3 separate regions of the Homo sapiens genome follow, and all the other regions are linked to region 3. Evidence: fine-mapped expression QTL. A gene starts in region 3. Each other region holds a variant in brackets. All regions are shown on one strand. Distances are between the middles of the regions.

Region 1 (9,557 bases), 40 kb before region 3:
CTGCAGGTGGCTCAGGCCACACCCAAGTAGCCCGAGTCTCATCCACATCTTAGCCCCATGCTTGTCGTTCCGAGGCAGTTCCAGAAGAACTGGTGAGTTTGGGCAAAACCAGGGACTCTGCCCCATGTTGTTCCCAAGCCACTGTCCACAAGCTTTCCTTTAATAAGCTCCATTTAATAAGCCCTTGACCCGGCTCAGCTGCTGGGCTGCACACCACGAATGTCCCCTGCACTCCCCCTGGGCAGCCACACACGGGCAGCAAGCCTGCTGGCCTCAGTGAGCTCCACGGCTCACCATCCCCCAGCCCACCTTCACGGGGCTCCCAGAGCTCTCGCTGTGCCGGGGATGTGTGTGCTACTTGACTTTCTGACTCTTACTGGAGATAATTTGGTTTTGGCAGTAGATGCCAGATGTAGTTTGTGAAGCAAAACTCAACCCCGCAGTTAACTCATATGGAGCGCCCTTGACTGCCTGGCAGATTCTTACCCCCGCCCACCAGCATGAGAATGAATTTGCATTTGAACTGTCCTCTCCAGGGCACTTCCAATCCAGAGACATTTGAAGGGAAGTCGGGGTCAGGAGGGGAATATGAGGCCAGGATCATGGCCCACCCACCCCAGGGACGGTCCCCATCTGGACCCCCAGGCGGCAAGTGGGGCCCAATGGGAACCTGACCAAGAAAACCAAGCTCTCAGACAGCCTTCCCTTCTGGCAAGAGTGGCACACATGACCAGAGACTATCACCAGAGGGGGTGTGATTCAAGGTTATAGCTTTACTGCAACTCAGGACAGTGAGCCCAAGCCAGGTGTTGGGCTGGGCCCCAGAACAAGGCTCAAATGCGGACTTGGACACACTTCGAAGGAGGGCTGCTCTGCCCCTGCTGTTCGGGCGTGGGGGGTGGGGGGCGGGGGCCACTGAGCTGGGCCTTCTGTCCTCCTCCCTGGATGTGCAGACATGGGCCATGGCTTCTGCCAGGACTCACATGTGAGCTGGGCCTTCTGTCCTCCTCCCTGGATGTGCAGACATGGGCCATGGCTTCTGCCAGGACTCACATGTGAGCTGGGCCTTCTGTCCTCCTCCCTGGATGTGCAGACATGGGCCATGGCTTCTGCCAGGACTCACATGTGAGCTGGGCCTTCTGTCCTCCTCCCTGGATGTGCAGACATGGGCCATGGCTTCTGCCAGGACTCACATGTGAGCTGGGCCTTCTGTCCTCCTCCCTGGATGTGCAGACATGGGCCATGGCTTCTGCCAGGACTCACATGTGAGCTGGGCCTTCTGTCCTCCTCCCTGGATGTGCAGACATGGGCCATGGCTTCTGCCAGGACTCACATGTCCTCCTCACTGAACACCAGAGACACCTGCTAACTTGGGAAGACGCAGGGTGAGGATTTCTGTTTCTCCAGCCCAGCCTGTCACCCTGTGGGAAGCAGCGAGTGGGAAGGGAAAGGGGAAGTCACATGTTTCTCACGCCGAGTTCCTTCCAGAATCCCAAAGAAGGCTCAGAAGGTTGTGAAGGAAGAACAAAGTCAGCTCAGGTGAGACACCCCTTCCCCACCCTCTACACTGGTGACACACCCAGGATTTCGGGGATAAAATGGGGCCATGAGGGATGTGGCCAAGCCTCCCAGGAACCAGCAAAGAGCACGCCTGAGTCCAGCAGATGCTCGCAGGGCTGTGACGTCCAGTGCAAGGGCACGTTTCAGCACTTTTTCTGAGGGCCAAAGGCTGGGCGATCTGATTAGCTGCTCCCACCCTAGAGACAGCCCGACAGCCTCGGCACAAGAGCAGGGCTGTAGGAAAGCCATCATCAACAAAGCCAGGCCCAGAGCCATCCCACCTTTCCCTGCAGGCTTAGGGTTTTGAGCTGAGACAGGGGCAGACTGTAGCCCCCAGTCCCTGAGGTTGCTACTTAAGGAGATGCTTTTGCAGTGAGGGGTGGGGCAGCAGCCACCAGGCTTCAGGTCAAGAGGAGGCGGCAGTCTCCCACTGGCACCAGCAGGAGGGGGTGCCACCGCTCACTTAATGTACTGGTTCCTGCCCAGGTGGGGGGTTTCCGTGAACTGTAATGCAGGGCCCGCCATCGTCTCCTCAAAAACGATGACCTGTGGAGAGAGGGCCCGGCTGGGAGGGCAGCTGACGTCTGTCCTGGAGCCAGGGGAGGTGCTGAGAGGTGGCAGGGTCAGAAGGAAAGGGTTTGGGAACCAGGCTGGAAGGGACAGGGACCAACAACTCGTCTGCAGCGAGGAGGAGGGAGGAAGAACCCGCTGACACGCCCCTCCACCCTGACCGAAGGCTCCCTGGGACGGCAGGTGGGCAGGGCGTCATGGGGAACAGGAAGGGGCTGGAAGCTCCCACCTGGTTGATTCCGCTGCTCAACCAGGGACCTGGGAGGTAAAGCGTCTTCTGGGGTCCAATGTTCCAGTAACGTCCAAGGTTCTGGCCATTGATGAATACAACCCCCTTCTCCCAGCCCTTGAAACAGAGGGGAAGGGTGTTCATCTACCACGAGAGCCACAGCAAAAGTGGAGGGAGACATGCATGCGTGCTTCTCTCAGGTCCAGGAGACCAAAGCGAGCTGTGTCTGGACAGCCATGAGGGTGGGCAGGTGGGATGCTCTATTTCCTGTCCCCCTAGTGCATGAGGTGTTTCTTCTGCTGGGAACCCACTCCTCTGGCCCAGGGAGGCCCCAGCGGCCCTCTCAGACCCTCTGGGCACAGAAGCCACCAACGACTCTCGCCAAGCTCGTGGCTTTGGCTCAGAGCCCTCCAAGGCGGGAGGCAGGTGGGAGAAACTGGCAGGGAAAAGGGCGTTACCAACCTCCAGCTTCAGAAAGGTGTCACAAGGGGTGGAGCTGATGGACAAGCTACCCAAGAAGAAAGCAGGTAATGTGGGTGTTTCTGGGAGGGAACTCCATTTGTCCAGGCCGAACCTAAGGACAGAACACAGAGAAGGAGAGGGAGGAGGCCCTTCTCAATCCACCAGCACAATAAAGCAAAATAAAAGGCCCTGACACCGTTTCCCCATCCAAGGCCCCCCGCCTCTTAACCAGGACACAGAATGGCAGCACGGTAGGATGCTGGGAATTCCTAGTCTGCAAATGCGGCTTCTAGTGCGGGTGCCACCCCTCACCTCGGCCAGCCGATCTGGCCCCTGGAGGCGTTCACACCTGGGTGCGGGCCAGGCCACGGTGCACCAGGGACCCCTGGGCCCCACCACACAGCACTATACCTGTGAGTGCAAGGGCTGGTGCTGGGCAGGGACCCACCTCTGAAAGAAGCTCTTCTTCATATCCAGGCTATAGATTCTGAAGTTTTTCAGGGGTGAATCATTCAGATAGAGATTTCCAATTAAGCCTGTGGGAGGGAGGCAGGACACGTGGGTAGCCCAAAGGCAGGGGCCGAGTCAGCTGGGCCGGGGCCACGAGGGGAAGCCCTGGGAAGCTGGGGTGAGGGGTGCTGAAGTGTACGCTCCCTGAGAAGCTGGGGTGAGGGGTACTGAAGTGTACGCTCCCTGGGAAGCCGTTCGCTTGCAAGCAAAGCTCCCTAGCAATTCTGTGGGGGACGGGAAGGAGGAAGACCCTAAGATTTGCCATGGGAAGGATATAGAGCTGAGGTGTTACAGGGCGAGAACAACCTCTGGCCTCTCTCTGAAGGAAGTTCCAGATGACCGAGAGGGTTCTGGCCTAGCTGCAGGGCCAGTTTCAGTGGGGCCCAAGCTACACAGACCTAATAACTCAGCCAGAATCATCTCTGCCACCTAGGATTAAAGCTGTGCATTAGGAGTGTTTGGACTGTGAGCAGATGGCACCCTCCCTCGGGCATCCAACAGGGAAGAGATGTGTCCTCTTGAGGAGCCACTCATCAGTGTCCCGGGGCCGGGCCAGCCCTGCCAGTCTCAGATTACAGAGCTGCTGAGTGGCTAGCTTGGGAATTTGGAGGCCGAGGACTGTGGAGAGGCTTTGCAGGGCCTACAGACTCCGAAATGGCAGGTGCGGGTCTATGTGGGCACGCGCATTTCTCAAGGGAGGTCTGTGACTTATAAACATTGAACTGTGATCCAGAGGACAGGACTCCACAGTGTGGGCCCAGGGGACCCTCAACAAGGGCTCAGGGAAGCAAAGTTAGGAACAATGGTCAGGCTGGTGCTCCTTCCAACTCCCAGGAGAACAACAGAAGTGAGGACAGGCCCAGAGAGGGAGCTGTCTAGGGTAAAGGAGTGTGGGCCTGGGTGGTGCTAGATGCCGCTCTGAGGCCCATCTAGAAGGGCCCTGATCCCCAGGATCCAGGCCCCAGTGTCTGGGCCACGTGGCTTTCCTGGCAGGCCACCAGACGGCTCTCGGAGGAAATGTGGACCAATAAGAGCTCTTCAAGTTTCCTCCGTCACAAACGCAGACACCGTGAGAGAGCTGGGAGGTCACCGGTGCTGCTCACCACAGTCGCATTCATTTTGTTCTGAGTTCTTTTTTTATAACTTACCTGAAACCACCCACATTTAGCTAGATTTTTTTTAAAAAGGAAGGGCTAAATTTGGGCACGGTGGCGGGCGCCTGTAGTCCCAGCTACTCGGGAGGCTGAGGCAGGAGAATGGCATGAACCCGGGAGGTGGAGCATGCAGTGAGCCGAGATTGCACCACTGCAGTC[T/C]GGCCTGGGTGAAAGAGCGAGACTCCGTCTCAAAAAAAAAAAGGAAGGGCTAAATTAAAGCATAAAAGATTTAGTAGGCCAGGAAACATAAAGCAAATTGGCGGCCTATTCCCAGAGGGGTACGCTACCAACAGGTGTTTTGTTTGCTGTATGTCCCGCATCCTCCTCCCCCAACATCTGAGATAAGCTTTCCCAAGATGGATCAAGAAGAGAACTTCAGTGTGGAGGCCCAAGAAGGCAGGGGTCTTGTGCCTTTCCTTGGATTCCTGGAAATCACATTCATTGCTCCTCACTGCCGCCCCCCCAAGCAGACATCCTTGCAGAAACCGACTGCAGCCCAGGGGAGACAAGAGGCCAGCTCAGTGTTCACAGTGTTTATCACGAGCACGCAGACGATGCACGCGTGCAGTGCTAACAGGACAGGGGCCACAGCCCAGCGGAGTTTCTCTGGCCCACTCAGAACTGGCCTCATGTATGGGACAACCCAGCCTCCACCTCCCTGCAAGAGGCCTCCATGGCCTGGTGGCCTGCTAGCATAGAGAAGCAATAGCCACCTGTGTGTCCAGCATGGCCACTCTTCTTTTGACACATTCTGGGACCCACCTTTGCGCTGGTCATCAATATTCTCCCCATAGTTGACTCGCCCACGATTCTCCACCAAGATCCTCAGCACGGTGTAACCCTGCCGGGAACACGGGGCTAACGATGACTGTCAGAAGGCCACAGCTGCCCCTCAGAATTTGCTTGTGGACCCCAGTTCTTCCCTACGCTCTGGGGATGGGAGTGTACATCCCAGCTGGGCAGAAAGCCACACTCGCCCTCTCCACCTACAGCTTGTGGGTAAGGAGCCACGGGTCTCCCAGGTTTTCCTCAGTGACTGCCCCCAGACTTCCTCGAAGCAGCGGGGGCTAGCCATCACCCAGCTCCCAAAAACAACGAACCTGGATCAGGGGGACAGCAATCTTCGTTGTCTTGTAGTCCAAGAATCCTATGGATACTGTGTTCACAAACACCTGCCAAAGGGAACAGGCAGGAACATCCATGACCAACAGGAGGAGGGTAAGCGGGACCTCCTCCAGGCCAAGAAGGGCAGCACGCGTGCCTGTAGGCAGACGAGGGGCCAGTGGGCAGAGCAGACATGAATGCCCCCTGAAGGCTCACAGAGCTGACTCAGAAGGGCCATTGTCACACACTGGTAAGAGCTGATTCTGAGGGGAGGGCATGAGACGCCTATTGCAGAGCTGCTCACCAGAAGGTCACAGGAATTTAGAAGAGAAGCTCCTACCTGCCCCCGATCATGCACGTGGCCACTGAGGATGCCAGACGAGGTGATGCTGGTCTCATAGAGAATGTACCCGAAGGACTGTCCATTTCCCCCATTGACTGGCAGGTTCTCCATGTTGATGGGCTTTTCAGACTTGATTGGCTGCGTACAGAAGAGATGGAGGGGTGGGCAGGCTCAGGAGGAGTGGGGTCACAGACAGACTCTGCCTGGGGGCTGGCACATGGGGTGGAAGCGGAGGTTTGGTGGGTGTTTTCTACTTTGACTTCTCATTGCACTAAACATACAACTCTCCAGGGTGACGGGGAAGAGGAGTGGGGCAAAGGGGTGTGCACCAGCAGAGTGCAGTCCGCAGGCAGGGGACACACATCACAGCCTCAGTCCGCCGGAGGAGGCACCCCCTTCTTGGGGAGGGGACGGCCTGTTCCTCTGCCCCTCACTCTCCTCTCTGAGGCTGGAGGAAGGAAAGGCCCACGGGGCCAGCCGCTGTTCCTCAGGGACCTCTGTTTCTCCCACTTCACACTCCAGCATGAGTCTGTCCTCTTCCCTCTGAGCTCCAAGGCCGGAGAGCAGACCCCAGAGCCACCAGGCACTGGCCTGCCTCCCCCCACACTCCCTGTCTGGAGGGGCTCCAGGCCCTGCTGCCCCGACGACTCTCACCTCCCGCCGACGACTGCCCCCAGCACTCACCTCCCTGCCAACGACTGCCCCCGGCACTCACTCACCTCCCGATGACTGCCCACAGCACTCACCTCCCCCAGGTACTTGAGGGCGTCCCACAGAGACAGGTACAAGACTGGCGTTAAGGGCTCATACGGCATCTTGGGAAGAAGGTCAGGTGGGGGAGGGAGAGGGATGCCTGCAACACAGAAAACAGGGTCACCCCCAACGGACCCAAATGTCACTGCCTGCTCGTCCTCCCCACCCGGCTCCCATCCACAGACCCGATGTGCTCCTGCGTCCCAGCACCAAGAGGAACAACAGGCTAGCTCTCAGCACCTGCTGAGGCCAGGGAGGAAGGCCAGGCCTGGGGGAAAGCCAGGGCGTTCTCCCGTCCTCCACAGGAGATAAGGAGCGTTAACACCTGTAACAGGTGAAGCCGGCAAGATGGAAACAGCCTCACACACCTCCCTGTCCTTGTCTAGGATATTCTTGCACGCAGATCAACTGGGGTCGAGGTGGGACAGTAAGGAAGTAACTCTTTAGGGGTCTGAGAGCAGAAGCGAGGGCCTGAGTTGGAACTTGAGTCTGCTGTCTGCTGGGTACCTGAGATGGAGCCGAAGAAGTCTCGAAGCTTCATGTACTTGGCCGTGTAATCGCCGGCTTCTGTCAGCACAGCATCATAGTCTGCAAGACACCGGGCCCTGTCATGGTCATTCCTGTCCCCAGCACAGCACATGTAGCACGAAGAACAGGGAGAAGCTTGGAAGGGCCACAGGTCTTCATCTCAGCCATTGGGGAGGCAAGACACTTTTGAGCCATTCAGTCAAAATACTGTAAACATGAAAGACCAGGCAACTACAACAAGCGTCCATAAGGCCAGGTGCAGCGGCTCACACCTGCAATCCCAGCACTTTGGGAGGCCAAGGCAGGAGGATCGCTTGTGCAGTGGCTCACACCTGTAATCCCAGCACTTTGGGAGGCCAAGGCAAGAGGATCGCTTGTGCAGCAGCTCGCACCTGTAATCCCAGCACTTTGGGAGGCCAAGGCAGGAGGATCGCTCGAGGCCAGGAGTTCCAGACCAGCCTGGGCAACATAGCGAGACCCCCACCTCTACAAAAAATTTTAAAAATTAGCCAGAGGTGGGGGTGCACACCTGTAGTCCCAGCTACTCAGGAGGCCGAAGCAGGAGGATCACTTGAGCCCAGGTATTTGAGGCTGCAGTGAGCTATGATCACACTACTACACTCCAGCCTGGGTGTCAGAGTGATAACTCTCTCACAAATTCAAAAAAACACAAACTGTCCATGATCACAGCATGGCCCTAAATTTCTAGCTGCAGGTGTAATTTCTACTTTCTGGGACTCTCAACCTAAAGGAGGCAGGATCACACCTCCTCAAGGGCCTGGGCAGGGAGGGGAGGCCACCGTCCCTCCCTGTCCCCCTAGGGCGGTCTCCTTCCACTTCCTCAGGCCAACCTTTGCCAAAGAGGCCTCTCTGTAGAGTGACCAGCTCACAGGCACACCACCTCCCTTGAGGCTTCCCTCCTCTGGGAGTGTAACATGACTGTCCAGGCAAGTACCTTCTCCAGGTACTCTATTGCCAAAGACACGAAGGTGCCAGAAGTTGACCCTGAGGGCCTCTCCATAGCAAGTCCCAGCCATGCCCATGCAGGGCAGACCAGGGAGAGCAGTGCTGATGAATACTTGCCATAGCTGGTGACATCTGACTTGTAGTCATGGAAGTGCATGGCTCCATTCATGAAGCCAAAGTTGGTGCCTCCGTGGAACATGTAGAGGTTGATGGAGGAGCCGGCGTCCACAATGGCAGACACGGTTTTCAAAACCTCTGCCGGAGGAGGGAGAAAGGGGATGTGCAGAGTGAGTTAAAGTCTGAGATGAGCCGGGGTCCCTTCACTACTCTCCTCTTTCCCAGTCCCACCTCAAAACCTCAAGGCCAACTTTGTCACTCTGTCCTTCTAGCTCTCATAAAACCCCAATCACAGAAGATTAGGGGTGGAGGAGGAAGTGTGGGCCAGAATCATGGCCCCAGAGCTCGAGCCTCCAGTTGTCTGTCAATCCTGGTCAAGTCTCTGAGCTCCATGTGGACCACCTGCAGCCCAGGTCGGCCAGGGCCTTCCAGCCAGCACAGTCTCCATGTGAGTCTGCCTGACCAGGTGTATCAAGTGCACAAAGATGGGATGCATCCTTAGAGAGAAAACTCTGACACCTCCTATTCTACCTTTGTTAGGAAATGAACCATGACATAACAAGATCATAGCAAAGGAGAAAAACAAATGGTTAATAAATATATATTTTATCAATATAAATCAAAGAAATGCAGACTAAACAATGATGTACTGAGTAGACAAATATTAAAAGTTATTTTAATACTCGGTGTTGCTGAATCTGTGGGAAATGGGTGCACCCATTCAGCAGCAGCGGCTGAAGCTGCCGTCTTTCCGGGGGCTGAGGGGCGAGCATGCACATCTACACGGTGCCGAGGAGCCCCTGTGCCGCTCATCCCAGGGAAAGCCGGGTGCGCAGAGCGCAGGCTCCGGGATGCTCACCGGGATGCTCGCCGGGATGGCGTGCGCTTAACAGAACCACCAGAAACAACCCGGGAGACTGTGTCCACAAAGTGTGGTTTAGAATGGGGCTCTTCACATTCTTTAAAACAGTCATGTAAATCTGTATTTGGTCATACAGAAAGCTGTCCGTATGTGCATTAACTGGCACAAGCAGGTGACATGCAGCGGAGTGTGATGGCATCTGTCTCTATCTGTGTGTGCGTATAGAGCTGTCGGCAGAGATACAGAGAGAACTGCCTGCGTGGTAAACAGCTAAGTGTTTTCTCTGTGCTCTGGGAATTTTATTTCTTCTCTATACTTTTTCTGTATTTTCTGGATGTTTGCAATAGGCATGCATTACCCTTCTAATTACAAAAACACGAACAAGCAATGTTAAAAGCC
Region 2 (9,814 bases), 52 kb before region 3:
CAGCCCAGCACCTGGTGCTCTGTCCTGCACAGAGCGGTGCTCCACAAGGATGTCCTATTGACACGGAAGAGGAAGGCACTCTCGTACTTCCCCCCAGGGACCATCCCAGAAACATCTCTTCTTTGTCCTCAAAAGACTGTCACCAAAATGCAAATTGAAACCACAGTGAGATACTATCTCACACCAGTCAGAATGGCTATTACTAAAAAGCCAAAAAATATTAGATGCTGATGAGGCTGCAGAGAAAAGGCAACACGTATACTCTGTTGGTGGGAATGTAAATTAGTTCAGCCACTATGGAAAGCAATTTGGAGATCTCTCAAGAACTTAAAACAGAGCTGCCATTCTAGCCAGCAGTCCCATTACTGGGTATGTATCCAAAGGAAAATAAAGTGTTTCACAAAAAAAACACCTGCACCTGTATGTTCATCGCAGCACTATTCCCAATAGCAAAGGCATGGAATCAATCTAGGTGCCCATCAGTGGTGAACTGGGTAAAGAAAACATGGTGCATATACAGCAAGGAATACTACACAGCCATAAAAAAGGACAAAATCATGGCCTTTGCAGCAGCCTGGATGCAGCTGGAGGCCATTATCCTGAGCAAATTGACACAGGAACAGAAAACCAAACACGATGCATTCTCACTTATGAGTGAGAGCTAAACACTGGGTACTCATGACTGTAAACATGAGAAGAATACACACTGAGGACTCTCAAAGGAAGAACGGCTGAAAAACGCCCTGTTGGGTACTATGCTCATACCTGGGCAGCGGGATTCATCATACTCCAGATCTCAGCATCACATGCAATATGACCCATAACAAACCTGCACATGTGCCCCCAAATCTAAAATGTTGAAATTATTTTTAATATAATAATTCGTGGTCCATATATGGTTAAAAAAAAGAAAAAAGAGAGAGAGAAAATAAAACCTCTCACCCCTTTATCCAGGCTTTGATAAGTAGCTGGCATTTTAGGGCTGCACGGGAGTTACCCTGTTTAATTCTGAGAATGACCTTATGAGGTAGGGATCCACAGTGCCCCATTTTATAGATGGGAAAACTGTGGCATGGAGAACGGAAATGACTTGGCAAAGGTCTTACAGCCTGTGGGTGGCACAGTTGGGATTTAAACCTGGTGTCTCTGCAGTCTGTGCTTCTGACCCCTGCACCCTACTGACTTTCATAAATGGAGCAGAGCCATGGCCCTGTGCCTGTGGGAAGGACAGAGCCCATTCCACTCTAACAGGCAGACAAAAGAGGTCCTCAGGTGATGGACAGTTGAGGCTCCATTGTGGAACCCCCGATGCTGTGTGTCCCAGAGCAGGGCCCAGCCTTGCTGGCATCCATTCCTATACCTGGGTCTCTGGCTATCCGCTTCTGCTCTCTCTTGCAGGTGTCCACCCCCCAGGGTTCCTGACCCCTGCCCCTGGACAGCGACCCCTTCTCAGACTCCAGTTGGGCCGGACTCTCCAAACCTGCTTCCGCAATGGGTGGGTTGTGAGTGCTGGTAAGACCTGCTAGCCAACATTCAGCTGCTCTGTCCTCTCCATGCCTGGCCGGCCCGGCCCATGCCTGTTCTTTTCTCCCCTGTGCTGCCGCCGCCCGTGGCCGCCCCTCTCCTGAACTTACCGCCACTCAGGTAATGAGGAGCCGTGGGTGCAGCCAGCCTTGGAGATGCCGAAGAGACGGGACATCCTAGCGATCGTCCTCATCGTGCTGCCCTGGACTCTGCTCATCACTGTCTGGCACCAGAGCACCCTCGCACCCCTGCTCGCGGTACATAAGGGTGAGCACGCACGCATGCCCTGCCTGCCCAGCTGGGCCTTGGTAGTGACAGTGACCACAGCTGACACGCAGGGTTCTTGCTTGCACTCACTTAGCAGCTAGGAGGAACCACGGGATCATCTAGGCCCCTTCATGAGTCTTGCACCCCTTTGGGAATGGGAAGCTAATGGAAGCTACCCACACAGTTTTAAGATGCCTGGGATGGTAGGTTGGCAGACACCAAGACAGTTGCCTTGAAAGAAGAGCTTGTTACTCTCAGCACCCAAGAGGAGGGGGCACGCCCTGCCCCCTGGGGAAGTGCTGAGGTCGGAGGTGGGAAGTGAAGGGAGGGGGAGGTGGGAAGTGGAGGGAGTGGGAGTCTTTAGTGTGGTTTTGGTAGGAAGGAAAGTGGTTTTCATAGGAAGGGAAGGGCGAAGCACTGTCGGCAGCTGAGCTGGCCCAGAATTGCATAGTCTGAAGAAAGTCAGTGGGTTTAGGATATGGGTGTGGTTTCTAATTGTCTGGTATCGCCCTGGGGTGGTTTAGGGCAGCGGAAGATTGGCTTGGGTGGGAGAGCTCCATAAAGGTGGTAGTGGGTATGAGCTCTAGATCAGGTAGTTTGCATATGAAAAGTGTGTTTGCAGGCAAGGTGTGTACTGTCACTAGGAATTAGCTAGTCCCGGGAGGGGCAGTCCCTCCCCATATCTGCAAGTCCCCCAAGATGTCGACGCATCTTAAAATACAGAAAAACTTAAAAAACAAACATCATTAATACACACACATACACAGAAAGACACGCATGTACAACTTCACATGCCATTTCATGACATGCAAGGAAAGCGACCATTCTGAAGTGGATGGTGGGGGAGGAATAGGATTTCTGGCCTGCAGTGTGTTTTAAACCCTTTCACAGAGAGTATATTGTTTGCCTCTCTTCTTTTCCTGTGTAGGAAACCCTGATCTAGTGCTACCTGGTGGAAATAGGGCTGGAGAGAGGAAAAGTCCCGTGAAGAACTAGTGGAAGAACTAGGGGTAGAACTCCTTTCCCCTGGCTCTGGGTCCTGGGTCGCCTTTCCCTCTCACTCCCAAACCTGCCACGCACCCCACAGCTGGCTGCCCCAGCTCTTCAGCACTTTGTCTCGTGCTTTTCTGCCCCCTCCCCCACTTACATGCACAGGCTCACGTGGGGTCAGGCAGCTGTTCGTTTGCAGCGTGCATGATACCACCTGGCAGTGTGATAAACAAGAAGGCAGCACCAAGCCCATGCAGAGAGAGGTGGTGAGTGCCTGTAACCCCAAGATGCAGGCAGTGTCCAAAAATCACAGCCTGAAGTCGTGCTGCTCCTCACAGTCAAATACCAAGTCCTGCAAACCCATAGCTGTTCCTGAAGCTTCCATGAGGAAGGGCCAAGCTCAACATTGCGGCAGCCCACTGCCCGTGGCTGGCACTTGGCGCCTGTCTTCCTGACATCATCCTCTCCTCCCGACCCTAGGGCCTCTTCTCTGTGCTTGTCAGTTCAGAATCATTGTTATCTTGCAAATACATCACTCCAGAGGGGTTAAAACTACTATATATAAAGCGACATGATATCGTGTCGATTGCGTTCTTGGCAGAGCTCCAGCGCTGGAGACGTCAGGCTGTTTGCTAAGCACTGATGGTGCTGCCTGAGGCTGGGGACTTGGCATTCTGTCTCCCCAGAGCATGCCAAGAGCAAGCGAATGAAAGCTGCAGCTGAGTGAAGTTAGGGTCACCAGGAGGCCTTTAGGACCCAAAATTGCAGACGCCCTGAAGCCAATGGGAAGGGCGAAGCCCAGGAGCACACGCAGTAGCCGTGCCCTAATGTATGGGGACTGTCCAAGGGCACAGGTCCTCTGCGGCCTTGGGATGATTTGGGTGGCAGAGAGGTGGACAAAGTGGCTCCAAACTTCCTCTCAAGGCCTCAGTTTCCAAAACTTGACTGCCCATAGGATGAATTAAGTCCTCTGTCTAGGTCAGAACCCTAGACACCCATCCCGCTTTCTTCCACGTTGCTCTTCTCACAGTTTGACCCCAGACTCCTCTAAGCAGCCCCCTCTGAGCGACTGCGTGTGTGCTGGTTTCCTCCCCCGACCCTCAGCAATTGCTGTGTGCCTGGTGCCATTTGCCCATGAGAACTCCTGAAGAGCCACGAGCAGGCCTCCTGGGTCCGTTCAGATGAGCTCCACGCTAGCGTGCCACACACCCCACATGCTGCCGATGACAGTGGCCGGAGGGAGGCAGCAGAAGAGCTGATGCCCGGGGTCCTCCCCTTTGGTGTGACTTGCTGGTTCTGTCCCCACCGATTGCCTGAAGCCAGAAGGAAGCAGAGTTGGCCACTGCCCTTCCGCAAGAGAGGAAACTGTGCCTGGCGGTGCTCTCAGCCCTTGTGGACTCATTAATCCACATAATAACTCGATAAGTTCGATGCTATTATTAGCTCCATTTTACAGTTGCTGAAATTGAGGCGCCAGAAGCTAAGCAGCTTGCTCAAGGGCACAGGGTTCGTAACGGCAGAAGTGGGCAGGGTCTCAGCCCAGGCACCGGGATTTCTTACCTTTACCACCCGACGGTAAGCTAGGACAGGAGGGCCACACCGTCATTGGTGCATGAGCCCTTCCGATGGAAGGACAGAATTTGGAGAGAAGGGAC[G/A]CATGGAAAACAAGAATCCCAATGGCCCTGATTTCTCCTCTTGCTAGGACTGCTAGATCTACATATACCTTGGCAACTATGGGCAAAACCCACGAGAATAAAATGCGGTGAAATAGGAAGTTCTGCACCGAGATTCAGAGAATGCCTTACGTAAGGCCAGGAGGGAAGAGGCCCCGCTTGACTGGAGGGCTTGAGAACTCCGGGAGCTGCCTCAGGCTCCTGCGGGCCCACAGTGGGCCCTGGTTGCTGCCGCAGTGCTGCGGCCCTGGGGCTTTGTGGCGTCCACACCACAGCGGGGCAGTGCCACGTGCTCTGCTAGCCCAGCCCTGCACAGGGCAGTGTGGCCAGCTCCCTCCAGATGAGTAGGGCTAGGGAGGGGAGGGTCGGGACGCCTTTTCATAGGAAAGTCAGCACATTCAGGAACTGAGGATGCAATCTTGGAATATGGGCAACTGCGCTCAAATAGCTAGAGGGCTGCAAAGGTGGGAAGGAAGAGGTTATGTCTGTGTCATCAGAGCTAGGACCCTCCCAGAGAGGATTCCAGGGCTGCAGATTTCAACCTTAGAGCTAACAGGTCAGGCAAGGCGGGGGTCTGAGCAGCCCCTGCAGCGGGGGAGGAGGAGGGTGCCCTGGCAGGGTGGGTGGCGTCCCGCTCTGAATCCAGGGCCGTAGCCGGCGCTCTCCTCCCACATCGCCGGTCTCCCGACTCCGCAGATGAGGGCAGTGACCCCCGACGCGAAACGCCGCCCGGCGCCGACCCCAGGGAGTACTGCACGTCTGACCGCGACATCGTGGAGGTGGTGCGCACCGAGTACGTGTACACGCGGCCCCCGCCATGGTCCGACACGCTGCCCACCATCCACGTGGTGACGCCCACCTACAGCCGCCCGGTGCAGAAGGCCGAGCTGACGCGCATGGCCAACACGCTGCTGCACGTGCCCAACCTCCACTGGCTGGTGGTGGAGGATGCGCCGCGCCGGACGCCGCTGACCGCGCGCCTGCTGCGCGACACCGGCCTCAACTACACGCACCTGCACGTGGAGACGCCCCGCAACTACAAGCTGCGCGGAGACGCCCGCGACCCACGCATCCCGCGGGGCACCATGCAGCGCAACCTGGCCCTGCGCTGGCTGCGCGAGACCTTCCCGCGCAACTCCAGCCAGCCTGGCGTGGTCTACTTCGCCGACGACGACAACACCTACAGCCTGGAGCTCTTCGAAGAGGTGAGGGAGGGCCCGACAGTGAGCAGCGGGACCTCCGGCTGCGGGGAGTGGAGGGGCTTCCCGAGAAGGGGGTGTGGGTGCGGAGGCGCGCGCAGGGGGAACCCGGGAAGCCGGGCTGGGAGCGGGGCAGGCAGCAGAGAGCCAGGGAAAGGGATGGAACTGCGGGCTAAAGCATCCCCCACAAGTTAGGGGGAAGACAGGTGGCTCTGGAGCCCCTAAACCATATTCCTGGCCCTAGAGGTATCTCCTGAATGGGTTTGTGAGTAGGTCATTCTGCGTGACTACCAGAAACCTCTTAGGTGGAACAGTTGGAGCTCGCCTGAGTATATGGGCTGTGTTAGTCTCGGGGACAAGGGGAGTCACTTCACACTCTAGAGCGGGGAGACTGAAAGGTTTTAGACAAGGGAGAAAACAGCAGCAGGGCCACGCTGAGAAGGGGAAGACCAGGCCGTCTGAGAGGTCAGGTGTCCCCGGCAGCCCAGGGCAGGTTCTTCTCAGGTGCCCAACCCATGGGATGGGTCCTGGGGGCAGGGCTGTACTGGACACCCCCTAGGTGGCCGCGGCTGGCCATGGGCATAGATAGAGGTGGCTGAAGGATGTCGCCTCCCTTGGGCACGCGCGGCCGTCCTCATCTGCAGTGCCGGCGCCCTGACTCTGGACCCCCCCCTTGTAGATGCGCAGCACCAGGAGGGTGTCCGTGTGGCCCGTCGCCTTCGTGGGTGGCCTGCGGTACGAGGCCCCACGGGTGAACGGGGCAGGGAAGGTGGTCGGCTGGAAGACGGTGTTTGACCCCCACCGGCCATTTGCAATAGACATGGCTGGATTTGCCGTCAACCTGCGGCTCATTCTGCAGCGAAGCCAGGCCTACTTCAAGCTGCGAGGTGTGAAGGGAGGCTACCAGGAAAGCAGCCTCCTTCGAGAACTTGTCACCCTCAACGACCTGGAGCCCAAGGCAGCCAACTGCACCAAGGTGAGACCCTCCGCAGAACTGACAGCTGTGATGCAATGTCTCAAGTACATCCAGACCCTCCCTACAGATCGGGAGAAGGAAACAGAGGCCTCAAAATAGCCTGGGCTTTCTGGAACCCCCTCCCAGGAAGGCAGTGTATCACCTGTAAGGCAGCGACACTGCGGACAGGCAGGGAAAGGGAGAGCAATGGCCACTGGGGAGTTATAACCTCCCACAGAACAGCCGTGCTCCAGCACCTCCCTGCTGAGCACTCATGCACACACACATGCCTACGCGTGCACACATGTGCGCACACACACATGCAGATGCACACACATGCACACATATATGCAGGTGAACATGCACAGACATGCACATATACACATATGCACATGAACATGCATACGTATGCACACACACACACTTGGGAAGTCTTGGGGCTTCTCTTTTCTGTAGTTCTAGACTTCCCATTTCCAGCAGGTATTCCGAAGGCATCACATGTAAAAACAGCAAAAATGAGGGGGTAGTCGAGAGCCACAGAAAATAAATAAAAAACAATTGAGAAAATCTTGATGGAACAATTGAAAAACTCTCGAAGGAAAAGGAGGGGCAGGAGAAATGTTTACACAGTGTGGGAGGGAGCAGGGAGGCAGCAGAGTGAGGTCAGGGGCCTGTCCCACCATGTTTTGCATCTCTGGGCACACAGATCCTGGTGTGGCACACACGGACAGAGAAGCCAGTGCTGGTGAATGAGGGCAAGAAGGGCTTCACTGACCCCTCGGTGGAGATCTGAGCCTCAGGATGCAGGTATGGGCATGACGAGGGTGGGCCACACACTGGGCAGGGCGGCACCAGGTTGGGCCGAATCAACTGTCTCATTCTTTTCCTCTTGGGCTTTCACTGTGGAGGACAGGGCAGATGTGGGCAGGAGTGGAGGGCGTCGTCACCACAGTCCCCTTCCCACTGGGCCACCTGAAAGTATCCAGGCATTAACTTTCACCCACGCAGCTGGGTCCTTCTGCCACCAGACTCTTCAGAGGGTGTCACCTTCCAAACATCTTGCTGATTTTTCTGCTGGCAGTGACGCCTGCACCCCACAAGGCACTGCCATTCAGACTCTCGCTGGCCAGCGTCTGTCCCCCCAAGTCTGCCTCTTCCCCTGTGGATTCCTTCACCACGTGGCCATGGTGAGGACTCACGGACTCGCTGCTCCACAGCAATGAGCCCACGGCTGTCATAGTGAGAGGTAGCGCAGAGTGACAGCACGGACCCAGAGCCCACCTCAGCTCCCAGGACCCCTGCTCTTCACTGTTTGACCTGACTTGACTTTTCTGGGCCTCAGTTTCTTCATCTGTGAAGTAGGTTGCTGAGAGCACCTAGAACAGTTCATGGCACTTAAATCTCATCAGTGTGGCTATTTTTATTCAAGTCTTTAAAGCCCTCTCTGGAAGTAGGCCACAGGATCCACCTACACTTCAGAAGCAAAGAAATGATGTTGAGAGAAGCTAAATGAATGTTCCAAGGTGACACACTGGCACGAGTGAATTGTGCTGGGTGGTTGGCAAAGCCAGGCATTTTCAGGGGCTTTTCTGTGATCTTATCCTGTCTCTTAAAAGCAGCTGGTACTCCTGACTCCCTACTCTAGGTTATGCCAAACAGAGGTTGAGGCCTGAGACAGACATTTGTCCTCTTGCCCTGGAGCTAAGCAATAGCTTCTGTATTGTGTTTGCCCGCAGAGGACCACAGGGTGTCACTCAGTCACCTTGGCCAGCGCCACTTAGAATGCATCTGTACCGAGCCTCACTTCTGCCTCCTGCCCTCACTGCCCTCACTGGAAGCACCTTCCCCACCTGCCCCTCAGAAAGGCCCCCACAGGACCTGGGGGCCTGGGCTTTGCAGAGGTCCTGGTGGCCCTGCCTGGCCATTCCCTCCCCGGCCCCACCCTCAGCCGACACCTCACTCATTCCTCCTCTCCCCTCACAGGAGCCTCCTCCTCAGACCCTGTTCTTGGCCTTCCATCCTCTCCCCACGGCTGATGGTCCCTCCAAGGCCGACTCCTAAGGAATCACCATCACCCTCCTTTCTATTCTGGGGGCTTCTGAGAGAGCCCAGCCTGATGCCAGAACAAAGGACAGAGAATTTAAGCACAGAAATCCCAGACCTGTTGTTCTCTCCATCCAGCGTGACCAGGGCCCGAGAGACCTGATGGCCAGGGTGGGGTGTCCAGCACCAGCCAAGCTGGTGCTCCAGCGCACCTCCCCAGAGCTCCCCGCACTGACGGGGCTGCAGGAGCAGGTGCAGTGGGCGCCCACACTGGCCCTGCAGTGATGCAGGGCGGGAGGGAGATAAGAAGACCCCGCAGTCAAGTGGAGCATGGCCCTCCCTGGCTCCCTGTCCCTGGGCTCAGCACGACCACACAGGACACCCAGCCAGGGAATTCTGAAGACCAGAGAGCAGCCCACGGGCATCACGAGCGCTCTGCTCCTCTCCTGGGCCCCTGCTCTTCCCGAGAGCTGCCCCCAAATCAGACATACCTCTGTGGCTCTCCTCTGGTTCACGTTTACAGAGCATAAGGCTGTCTTGGATCCCAACAGGCACCCAGCCCTGCATGGGGGGAGCCTGGGCCTAATAGGCACCCCCTGTACCTCAGGCTGTGGCGGGAGCAGAGTCCCCCCCTCCGGCCCCTCTTCCTTTACCCCTTCTCCTCCAGCAGTGGCAAAGGGGTAGGCTCTAGAGCCAGCACAGGTCACTGCCTGACCTGGACTAAGAACCCCACGGCCCCACTGTCCACACACTGCCTCCCCACCGCCCACCTCGGCTGCTAGGCCCCTCGCCTGGACTGGACTGGGGAGGGAAAGCGCCTTTTCCTGCAGCTCTTCAGAGCCACAGACCTCAGGGTGGAGTGAGCCCATGGTGGGCAGTGGGCAAGGCGGTGGGTGGTGGGCAAGGTGGGACCTCCTGCAGCCTGGAAAGAGGAGGGAGGCCAAGGCCATTCCCTAACTCCCTCCTGCCCCTGGTCTGAGGAGGAGGGACTCTGGAGTAGCAGAGGGGCTGGGAAAGAGGGGGCAGGGGCTGCTGGGACACTGAGCAGGAGGGAGGCCTGAGCACACTGCTTTGGAAATTATTCTAAACACAAAAAAGGGAAAGAAAATGTTATTTCTCCCTAAGTCAGGAGCATGCAGAGCTAGCCCACCTCATGTCCAGCT
Region 3 (9,814 bases):
CATCTTGCAGAGATGTGAGGTCCCCAGCAAGAGGTCCACAGCACTCTTGCCATCCTAGCTCCTCTGCTTTTTCCTTTGAAAAGGCTCCCAGGTAAGGCAGGAACCCTGGCCTCACATCCAGGCTCTGACCCGGAAGCAATATTGGTGGTTCAGAGAGCAGTTATTTCCTAAAGACTGTAGGAAGTGAGTACATGAAGAAGAGTTTACTAGACCAAAACCTTGAGATCCAATAGTAAAGTAACAAAAACCCCTCACTCTAATCAACCATATAACAACAATAACAACAACAAAAAGTGTTCTAACATTCTGTTACTCTGTACTTTTGCAGTACTTTGGGACCATTGACAGCATCATAAACAGGAAAAGGACTGTGTCTCACCCAGAGAGAAAGCTCTGTTAGATAACACAAGGCCTCTACTCTTGATAACAAGCCCCTGATCTTCAAGATGCTTGTAGACTCTAAATGAAATGATATCACAAATACGGAAAAACATTATTATGTTAAATTTTTTTTTAATCCACCACATAGGACTTATCTATGAAGATATACAAGAGATGCACTGGCTCTTACAAGACTCAAGAATCGACTTGGCCCTATTGAGTTGGGCTCGGAATCTCCTTTACATTGATCCAACAGAAATAAAATGTACTATTTGGAAATGTCTATCAAGATTTAAAATGAATCTATCCTACGGTCAGCAATTCTACTTATAGAAATACATCCAACAGATATCTGCAGCAGCTTTGTTTACAGTAGCTAAAAGATTGCAAACAATCGATGTCCATCAGTAGAAGGCTGTTTAAATAAATTATGTGTCTAATGGACAAGTGGGATAATATGTGTAGCTATCTTCTTGTATATGCATAGAATATTTCTGAAAGAAGCCATTACCAGTAGTAACAGCTGATATGAATAGGGGATAGGGAAGGGTGCCTAGCCTAGGGGCCAGGAATGGGAGTTTCTTTTCACTTTATTCCCCTTCACACTCTGAATACTTACCATGTTCATTAATTGCCTACTCACAAAATAACTTCTTAAGGGAAAAAAATACAATCTGTGCTTGAAAGGAACAAGCCCACTGACTGTTTCGCTGAGTGTCAAAGAACAGAAGCTGTGAGTATCAACAAGGAGTCTCTAACAGGCAGACACGAGTCAAGAAATATCTACCTCGTTAGCAGGAGCCTCTAAAAACACCTGCTGCCTTTCTATCCCAGGAGACATCCACACATGAGAACTCTTTTTCAATACGGTCTTTAATATCCAGAGCAATAGATTTAAGCAAAAGCTAAAACTGAGTGGAGAGGAAGCAGCAAATATCCCAACATTGACACCAAAAAACCCTGCCCCTGCTGGTGATGGTGGAGAGGGAGGGAGGGAGGACGTGCCTAGACCCCAGAGTCCTTTTCAGGTCCAAATGTTCTCAAACCTTTCTCCGCAAGCTACAGCATCTCCTGAATTCTTCCCAGAAGAGCGTCTGACATGACCTCGTGGAACTCTGCACCACTTCATCAAGGACTACATGTTTTTATTTCACTTGCCACTTCCTTACCTTAAGGTGGGAAGAACCCTTTGGTCAACTTTCTGCTATTTCTGCAGCCCAGGCTCTTTGTCTCCAATCTTCTTGGTAGCCCAGTCCCTCCCTTGAATCACACCTATACCAATACTATGGCTGCTCCAAGACAACTCTGGTCTCCTTCTGCTGGTGGCTAGCATGGTCCTGTAAGAATCCCAGAGCCAACTCGATCTTCCTAGCACAGGGTGATTCAGACATCCCTCAACACCTGTATCCAACAGGTGATCACCTGCTGAAAGAGACACTTCCCCGATGCTGAAAACTTTACTACTACAAGATGAAAGGAACACTGTTCAAAGAGTTTGAACATTCCATGAAATATGACTCAGGCCTCAAGCAGAGAAGAGTCCTAGAATAGGCAAGGCCCATAAAATCAATTACCTCCCAGAAGCTCCAGAGGAGAGGCATGATTTGGCCACATACCCTTGGAAGACAGGACTGGCCATGATTCACATAAAAAAAAAAAAGTGACCTGCATTGCTAAGTTAGCCACCTTGTTCAGGAGAAAGAGTTTGATACATCTCCTCCTTTTCCTTTCTATAGGAAGAATTTGGGGTCTGGAATAAAGAAAACAGCAGGGCAGGGCAGTGTGTGAGACGGACCTCAGAGAAGAAATGAACTTACCTCTTAGGAGCATGATGCTGGCTGCCCACATGAAGGCTTTCCCCTCTCCCAACTTTCCCAGCTAAAATTTCAGGTATGAGAGATGCAGCGTTGCCTGTATTCTTGCTCGGTGATTCATTTATATTAAGGAAAAAATCATGAATGAGAACCATGCCTTTAGATAATATCAAGCAGGCATTCTTGTGTTCATGGAGTGCGAATAGGAAGAGAATGAAAGGCAACTGGCTCAAAGGCACGGTTCGCACTGATACGTGCATCGCAGACCTCAAAATAATACTCTGAGTGAAAGAAGCCAGACCAAAAAGGAAAACATGCTTTAAGATTACAATTCTATAAAACACTAGAAAATGCAAACCAATATATCGTGTCGGAAAGCAACAGATCAGTGGTTGCTTGGGGCTGGGGAGCAGGGAGGAGTAGGAGGGAGGGATGACAGAGAGGTACATGGAAACTTTGGGGGCTGGTGGCTGTTTTCACAATCTTAACTGTGGTGATAGATTCACAGCTGGATTTAGATATGTGTCAAAGCTTATCAAATTGTACATATTAATTAAACTCCAATAAAGGTAATTTTTAAGAAAGACCACTGTTTACGCTTAAAAAAAATAAAAATAAAAATTCTAAGACTGAAATCCTCCCCAAAAGTCAACCTGGTCATCCTAGTCTTTTGATATGATGTAACCCACCAGCTATGACTGACCGTGAACCAGCCCAAGGAAAAGTTGATGAAAAAAAAGAAAAGCTATAGCCAAACATCCCCCAGCCCATGCCAGCCACTGTCCAAATACCTGCCTTCTGCTACAGGAAAGGGGCTGCTCCTGACAGCTCGGCTCCACAAAGAGTGAACTTGGTGGCCAGTTTCCACGTGACCTATATTCCACTGGCCACCTCAACACTGCCCAGTAACAGCTGGGAGAGGCCCCACCTCCCACTCAGTTAATGACCCAGTCAGAGCTGGGGCAAGACAGGAAGAGGGAAAGACAAAGAGGATGTTCTCCTCCTGCCTCCAGAGATATTACAGCAACTCATACTCACTGGTGTCCAGCCCAAGTCAGACAGGAGGAACTGGCAGAATGTACCCATGAGGGTGAAAAAATCAAAAAGATGCCAAAAAGACACGTATTCCACAGGATCTGAAGACACGGCCCTGAACTTGGTTCAGAGCTCCTTGAGCTTCTGTTCTACCTGCTAGAAGGATGGAGAGGCAAGAAAAACATCCTTCCCAGGCAGGCCAAACTGTTTTCACAGAATTTGGTTGCAGCTCTTTATTCTCTGTTGCCATTCCACCTGCTCCAATGGCCCAAGACTGACTCCTAGTGCGGTCACCCCACCTAGGTGGGGACACAGTTACCTCACCTCAAAGAAGCTCAGGCGTCTTCCCAGCTAGGTCAGCTCCCTGCCACCTCACCTCTGTCCCACCAAACAATAACAAACCCTCAGCCTCCTTCGCATACCTTTTCCTGGGGACTTTTTGGGTGTACCACTCAGCCCATCTCAAGCCCACAGTGCTGCCCCAAATAGTGACCTGCCTGGGTCCCCTGCACGGACTCCTGTATCCCTGACCAACAACAGGCCTGCAGCCGCTAGCCTTTCTCTTGGCAGCTTGCACGCCTTGCTACCCTGCTGTATGCAGGAGGATCTGCTGCCGCTGCTCTGAGTAATTCTTCTGGGGTTTGCGTAAGCCTTGCACAGGGAGGAAAGCTGAGCATCCCACAGGAGCCAGGGCCAATCTTCAGAGAGGAATGGCTTAGAGATCTTAGGCAGGACAGAAAACATCTTGGGAACAACCGGAGAAGTTAAATGCCTGAAGTTTTCTGGGCCCCAGAATGAGAAGAAAATCCGTCCTTCTCCCAAACAATATCATGACGTCCCCACTATCTCAGAAACAAGAATCCAGTCTTGACAAGGTGTAAACATAGAGTTTGTCAGTGTGTTCTTCTGGCCACAAAGGACTTCCAGATATTTATCTCCATCAAAAACTTCCCTGTCTCCCAGGGGAAGTGCAGAGAAACTAAGAACTTAGTTTCTCTAAGTAAAAAAGAAGCAAATGACAAAGCCGAGCGGCGTAGGGCCTGCCACCACTTCCAACCGTTCAGTTCATTCGATACTGCCGGTCGGCTTCCCACTGGAGGTTTTGAATATGGAAAGTGCTGACCTGAAAGATAGGGTCAGGGCTGTAGAATCCTTAAAATAAGCACAGTTTAGAAAAATGCTGGGCTAGGGCACCCAGAAAACTTTTTCACAGGCTGTGGGTAAATCACAGTATCACTGAAGCCACTCCTTTGCCATAAACAACATTTGGAAAAGGGGGAGAGGAAAGGGTGAGCTGGTAACAGGTGAATGGTGGGAAAGTGGAGAGAGACGACCTATCAGTCCTACTGTGCAAATAAATCATGGCCCGGGATCTTGGAGGCCCACGGACACTGTTCTTACGACCCTGCCAGGCCAGCTGGCTAGACCATACCTGCCAGGCTGAAGCGCCGGCCTCTGCGGAATAAGGCGCCTCCCAGAGGCTTGGGAGGAAAAGGGGGGCCTGGGGGAAGGGCAGAGGGAGCTCTCCGCGGAGCAGTGGGGACGGGGCCGCGATGGGGTGCGTCTGAGAGGGCTCTGACGGCTGGAGGGCTGCGGGCGTCCACGGGGGGCAGAGCCCGGCGTCACAGGCGCGGCGGGGTGGGCGGCTCGGGGCACAGACGCCGGCTCCCGAGGGCACGCCGGGTGTCGCCCAGAGGCCTGGATCGCGCGGCAGGAGTAGAGTGCCTGCAGCCGCAGGGGAACTCGGGGGTATTGGGGAGCTCCCAGAAAGAAGCAGCTGGGGCTGCTCCCCCCGGGAACTCGGGATTCGCGGGTCGCGGGAGGAGAGAACCCGAGGTGCGGAGGGCTGGGGAATGTGGGGTCCGGCAGGTGCTGCGCGAAGCTCTCTCTCACCTGCGGAGCACCAGGAAGCCCAAGACGACCAGCAGCAGGAGTCCCAGCGTGCGGGCCGGCCTCCGCCGGAGGCTCCACGTGGTCATCGCGTGTTCTCTAAGCGCGGGGACCCGGGTTCCCACTCCAGTCCGCACTCAGCCGCGCGCGGGAGCCTCGCCGCGGGGGGCGGAGCCGCGCACTGGTCGCCTGGGCAACCGGCCCGCCGGCGCTCATTGGCTGGGGCTCGCGGCTCCGCGCCTGCAGCCCTAGGCCTCGCGCAAGCGGGGGCGGGGCTGGCCGGGGCCGGGGCGGGGCCTCTGTCGGGGGGGGGGCGGGGCGGGGCTGGTGGGCGGGGACGAGGTCTCGGTAGGAGAGGGGGCTGGCGGGGGCGGGGCTGGCGGGGCGGGGCCCCGGCCGGGGGCGGGGCGGGGACAAGGTCTCGGTAGGGGACGGGTCTGGCCGGGGCGGGTCCCCAGTGTCGTGGAGCGGTGCAGAGTCCGCCGTCTTTCTGCTCGCGAGGCGCAGGCGGGTGCGGGAATGCTGCGTACCTGTCAAACGCCGAGGTAAAGTCGCCCCTCGCAGCGCTACATCAGGAAGAACGTACAAAAGGCGTCCGCAAAGCAGGGGCAACCAACAGAATCTTTTAAAACAATTCAGATTCTGAAGCAAACAACTTTTTCAATAACAAATCATCCTGTGAAAAGCCAGGATTTTGAAGAATTGTATCTGGACACATTTCAGTGTGGTTCATGTCTGAGGAGGGGGGGTTCCAAATATTTTCTGTCTTTGGTTTCTGCGAGTCTTACTCTGGCCTTGACTCCAAGGGCTTCCAATTTTTTATTTTAAAAAGGTCCATATAAAACTCTCACATTTTAGGAAAGGAAGAATATCATTCTTATTCTGAAACAGAATGTATGTCCCAAAGAACATGATGTAGTATTTCGGTGCAACTTACACTGTAGCAATCACAAACCCAACTCCTCCCGGGAACAAAATTCAGATTTTACTGAAAGAAACTCGAGGAAGGGCAACGTTTTCCAGAGCATCCGGGTTTGTCGAATGTCTCCCTTGCCGCATGCTTTGAATTCATTTCCTAAACGGGGGCATAGTTTTGAACTTGTAAAGCCGACAGGAACCAAATGAAATTGCAGATCTTGGAACAAAGACACAGACTTGGGTATGAAGTGTCCTTTGTCTAGCGTTAAGCACATATTTAGTCAAGGAGCAAAAGTTAAATCAAAGAGAGGCAAAAACAAACGAACAAACAAGAGGAAAAAAACCCTGGCAGAACTGGGGAGGATAAGCTGGGCTTGGAGCAATCCGGGTCTGACTTAAGCACCGCAAACATTCCCAGAGGCGCGCAGAGGGAGGCCCACTCCCGTGGACGCGCTCCAAGCCCGCTCCTTTTCTCCATTGGGTAAGGCTATGATTGCTTGATGGCTATGAAGTCTGTGATGGAAACATGTTGGTTTAATTGGAATATACCAGCTAGCCCCGAAGCGTGTGGAGAAATTGTCAAAGGCTAGCCCCTTTGCCTGCAGGGGACCATCCGAAAGACATGCACCCCACATTCATCCTCTCACTTCTGGTCACGTTGAACAGTGGCAGAATCTATCAAATATAAGGGAATTCTCAAATGGTTTAAGCAATACAAGCATCTCCATTTTTCTTCAAACGTTAGCAAAAACTTAACATGGGTTGTGAAAACCGTGAACTCCTTGGCCCACCCTTGTATCCTTCGTTTTTATTTGTGCGAGAAAAATATACATAACTGAGTGTTTTCAAAAAAATTTCCCCTTAACCTTGTGGGATGTTCAGAACTAGGGACACACCCTGCTCACAGTCTAGGAACAATTTTACTTTATCTGGGCTTAATGATACCACAGAATGCTACAAAGTTAGCACTAACCCGAGATGCGTCTTGCTCATAGGCTGAGACTTTTTTTTTTTTTTTTGAGACAGAGTCTCACTCTGTTACCCAGGCTGGAGTGCAGTGGTGCAATCTCAGCTCACTGCAATGCCTCCCGGGATGCAAGCTATTCTCCTGCCTCAGTCTCCCGAATAGGTGGGACTGCAGGCACCCACCACCTTCCCCGGCTAATTTTTGTATTTTTAGTAGAGACGGGGTTTCACCATGTTGCCCAGGCAGATCTCAAACTCTTGACCTCAGGTGATCCACCTGCCTCGGCCTCCCAAAGGGCTGGGATTACAGGCGTGAGTCACCATTTCCAGCCTGAGACTTTTGTTTTTTAAAACATTAGGCCGGGTGCGGTGGCTCAAGCCTGAATCCCAGCACTTTGGGAGGCCGAGGGGGGCAGATCACGAGGTCAGGAGATCGAGACCATCCTGGCTAACACGGTGAAACCCCATCTCTACTAAAAATACAAAAATTAGCCGGGCGTAGTGGCGGGCGCCTGTAGTCCCAGCTACTCAAGAGGCTGAGGCAGGAGAATGGCGTGAACCCAGGAGGCAGAGCTTGCAGTGAGCCGAGATCGTGCCACTGCACTCCAGCTTGGGCGACAGAGCGAGACTCCGTCTCAAAAAAAAAAAAAAAAAAAAATTAGCAAGATACTCCTTCAGTGTCTCCTTTCCAAAATGTTTAGTGATCTTAACCCAAAGCAGACAGTGAAAATACTCAAATCCCTGGGAACAAAAGCTACAGTTACAATGAGCTGGCATAAGAGTGGGGTAAAAAAGTGGTCTGCCAAGGTGCTTGGCTTGGTAATGAATCCCTGGTACACAGGAATCATCCTCTTCCCAGGCCTTCTTTCTAGTGTCCAGGGTTTAGAAAATACAAGAAATGCTTTTTAAAAAAGTTAAATCTTGTTGGTGTGCCATTTCCATTGCTCTAAGTCAGAGCTCCAACAGACCCAGAGGGCACAGTTCCTTCCTTGAAAATTCCTGTATCACAGATAATCAGCGGGAAACCGAAACACATACAAAATGCACACACAGGAGAATAAAAACCACACTCGCTCAAAATCAGTACAGTGAAGTCACGTGGGAAAAGCGATCATGTCAAACTAGTCTCATTTGCTGTTTCACTTTTTATTTTTAATAGGTAACAGGTTTACAGATCAGTTATTCATTCACGTAACTCATTTTTGAGGGCACTCTGCTAATGCTTTAAACACAGGATATCTGAATTTTAGGAAAACATTGGCAAAATTTCTTTTAGTCATGAGAATAAGATGAAAAATGTGGCTTCTACGATAGTACAGTCACTTGGGCCCCTGGACCAAGATATAACCCTCTCCTCCCCACCTCCTCCTTATGGACAGACACCTCTGTCCAGCAACCCCCATCCACCCTCCCCTCAGGAGAAGCAAAGTCCAGTTATGATGTCAAGTTGCCAGGGGTCTTGAACAAAGAAATTCAGAGCACAGGAGAATTCCTGGGAATAAATGAGGGCCATTTCAACCCTAGCCAAAACAAAATAGAAAGTCCTGGAATGGAGATTTGGCCTAGGAAAAAGAAAAGAGAAGGCAGATTTAAGATAAAGGAAGTAGACAAAGCTTTTCAGCCCCAAAGATATGTGAGTGGGACTGGAAGGGGCCTGTGCACATCCGATAAGGATGCACAGAACTTGATCTTTGGCCTTACCAAGCCTAACTATCATTTTGTAGGCTCAGCCTTTGAAGGCCTAATAGCCAAAGATCTAATTCTGCAGCATTGTATTTATTAAAAAGTAAATGACAAATTTTAATGACCATAAACAACATACTGAACACTGTTTCACATGCTTGGGATGTATCAGTGGACAGAACAAAGATCTCTTCTCTTTGAAATTTCTGTTCTAGCTAGGGAAGAAAGACAATAAAACTTAACAGAATGAATAAGTAAACTGTAGAGTATATTCAAAGGTAGTAAACTCCATTGCAAAAATTTAAGAAGTAATAAGGGAGCCAGGCCCAGTGACTCACGCCTGTAATCCCAGCACTTTGAGAGGCTGAGACAGGCAGATCATTTGAGATCAGGTGTTCAAGACCAGTCTGGCCAACATGGTGAAACCCCGTCTCTACTAAAAATACAAAAATTAGCCAGAAATTGCTTGAACCCTGAAAGTGGAGGTTGCAGTGAGCCAAGATCATTCCACTGCACTCCAGCCCGGGCAACAGAGTGAGACTCCATCTCAAAAAAAAAAAAAAAAAAAAGTAATAAGGGAAGGAGGACTGGGAATGTGGTGGGGAGGGGTCTGCAGAGAGGCGGTCTCCCCGGAAAGACATTAGCTGAACAAAGATCGGAACACAGTGGGAGTTCTCCATGCAAGCGAACCAAGATAGAACCTGGAGGAAGCACTGTCCAAGCAGACAGAGCAGCTCGTACCAAGGCCCTCAGGAAGGAGCATGACCTGGTGTCCCTGGTGTCCAAGGAAAGGCTAGGAGGACAGCGTGGGAGGTGATGGCAAGAAGGCAGGAGATGAGGACAGAGAGATACAGGGGCCTGATCATGCAGGGCCTTTAAGAGCAGGGCTTTGACTCTGAATGAAATGGGAGCCACTGCATGGTTTGAACATGGCGGTGATGATAACTTAGAAGGATCACTGGTGCCATGCAGTAATCCATATGGGAGACGATGCTGGCTCAGGGGACAGCGGTGGAGGTAGTGAGAAGTGTTGAATTTTTGGGAGTATTCGGAAAGCAGACATGAGAGGGTTGTTGCAATTCGTGGATTGTTTGTAGGGGGAGAGAAATAAAGGGGGCTTAAGAATG

Alleles and levels. Positions count from the first base shown, and alleles are read on the strand shown. Sizes are in standard deviations (SD) of each study's normalised expression. Not every link is listed here.
In carriers of allele A in region 2, the expression in tibial nerve of the gene that starts at base 5,283 in region 3 tends to be higher than with G alone (small effect, 0.29 SD a copy in GTEx).

The links.
Region 1: its variant is fine-mapped to the expression of GLB1L2 in testis (GTEx, PIP above 0.99). The same link has a PIP of 0.9 or more in thyroid and unexposed skin.
Region 2: its variant is fine-mapped to the expression of GLB1L2 in tibial nerve (GTEx, PIP 0.96).

Annotation. Positions count from the first base shown.
Region 1 is chr11:134,367,521-134,377,077 of GRCh38, reverse strand. GLB1L2 (galactosidase beta 1 like 2) reads right to left here. Exons shown (of 19, transcript NM_001370461.1): 10 at 8,297-8,434; 11 at 7,193-7,273; 12 at 6,679-6,785; 13 at 5,930-6,070; 14 at 5,586-5,657; 15 at 5,248-5,326; 16 at 3,270-3,357; 17 at 2,822-2,933; 18 at 2,360-2,476; 19 at 754-2,106. The coding sequence ends at 2,020. LOC124902798 (a long non-coding RNA gene) reads right to left here and starts at 282. Exons shown (of 2, transcript XR_007062961.1): 1 at 1-282. RefSeq lists an enhancer at 1-617. The variant T/C (reference allele first, on the strand shown) is at 4,645.
Region 2 is chr11:134,379,525-134,389,338 of GRCh38, reverse strand. It overlaps B3GAT1 (beta-1,3-glucuronyltransferase 1), which reads left to right. Exons shown (of 6, transcript NM_054025.3): 2 at 1,399-1,791; 3 at 5,151-5,659; 4 at 6,333-6,629; 5 at 7,315-7,415; 6 at 8,592-9,814. The coding sequence starts at 1,680. The coding sequence ends at 7,401. Among named protein-coding and RNA genes, the nearest start is that of B3GAT1, 28 kb to the left of the region's middle. The variant G/A (reference allele first, on the strand shown) is at 4,437.
Region 3 is chr11:134,327,457-134,337,270 of GRCh38, reverse strand. GLB1L2 (galactosidase beta 1 like 2) reads right to left here and starts at 5,283. Exons shown (of 19, transcript NM_001370461.1): 1 at 5,124-5,283. The coding sequence starts at 5,209. RefSeq lists a silencer at 5,134-5,433.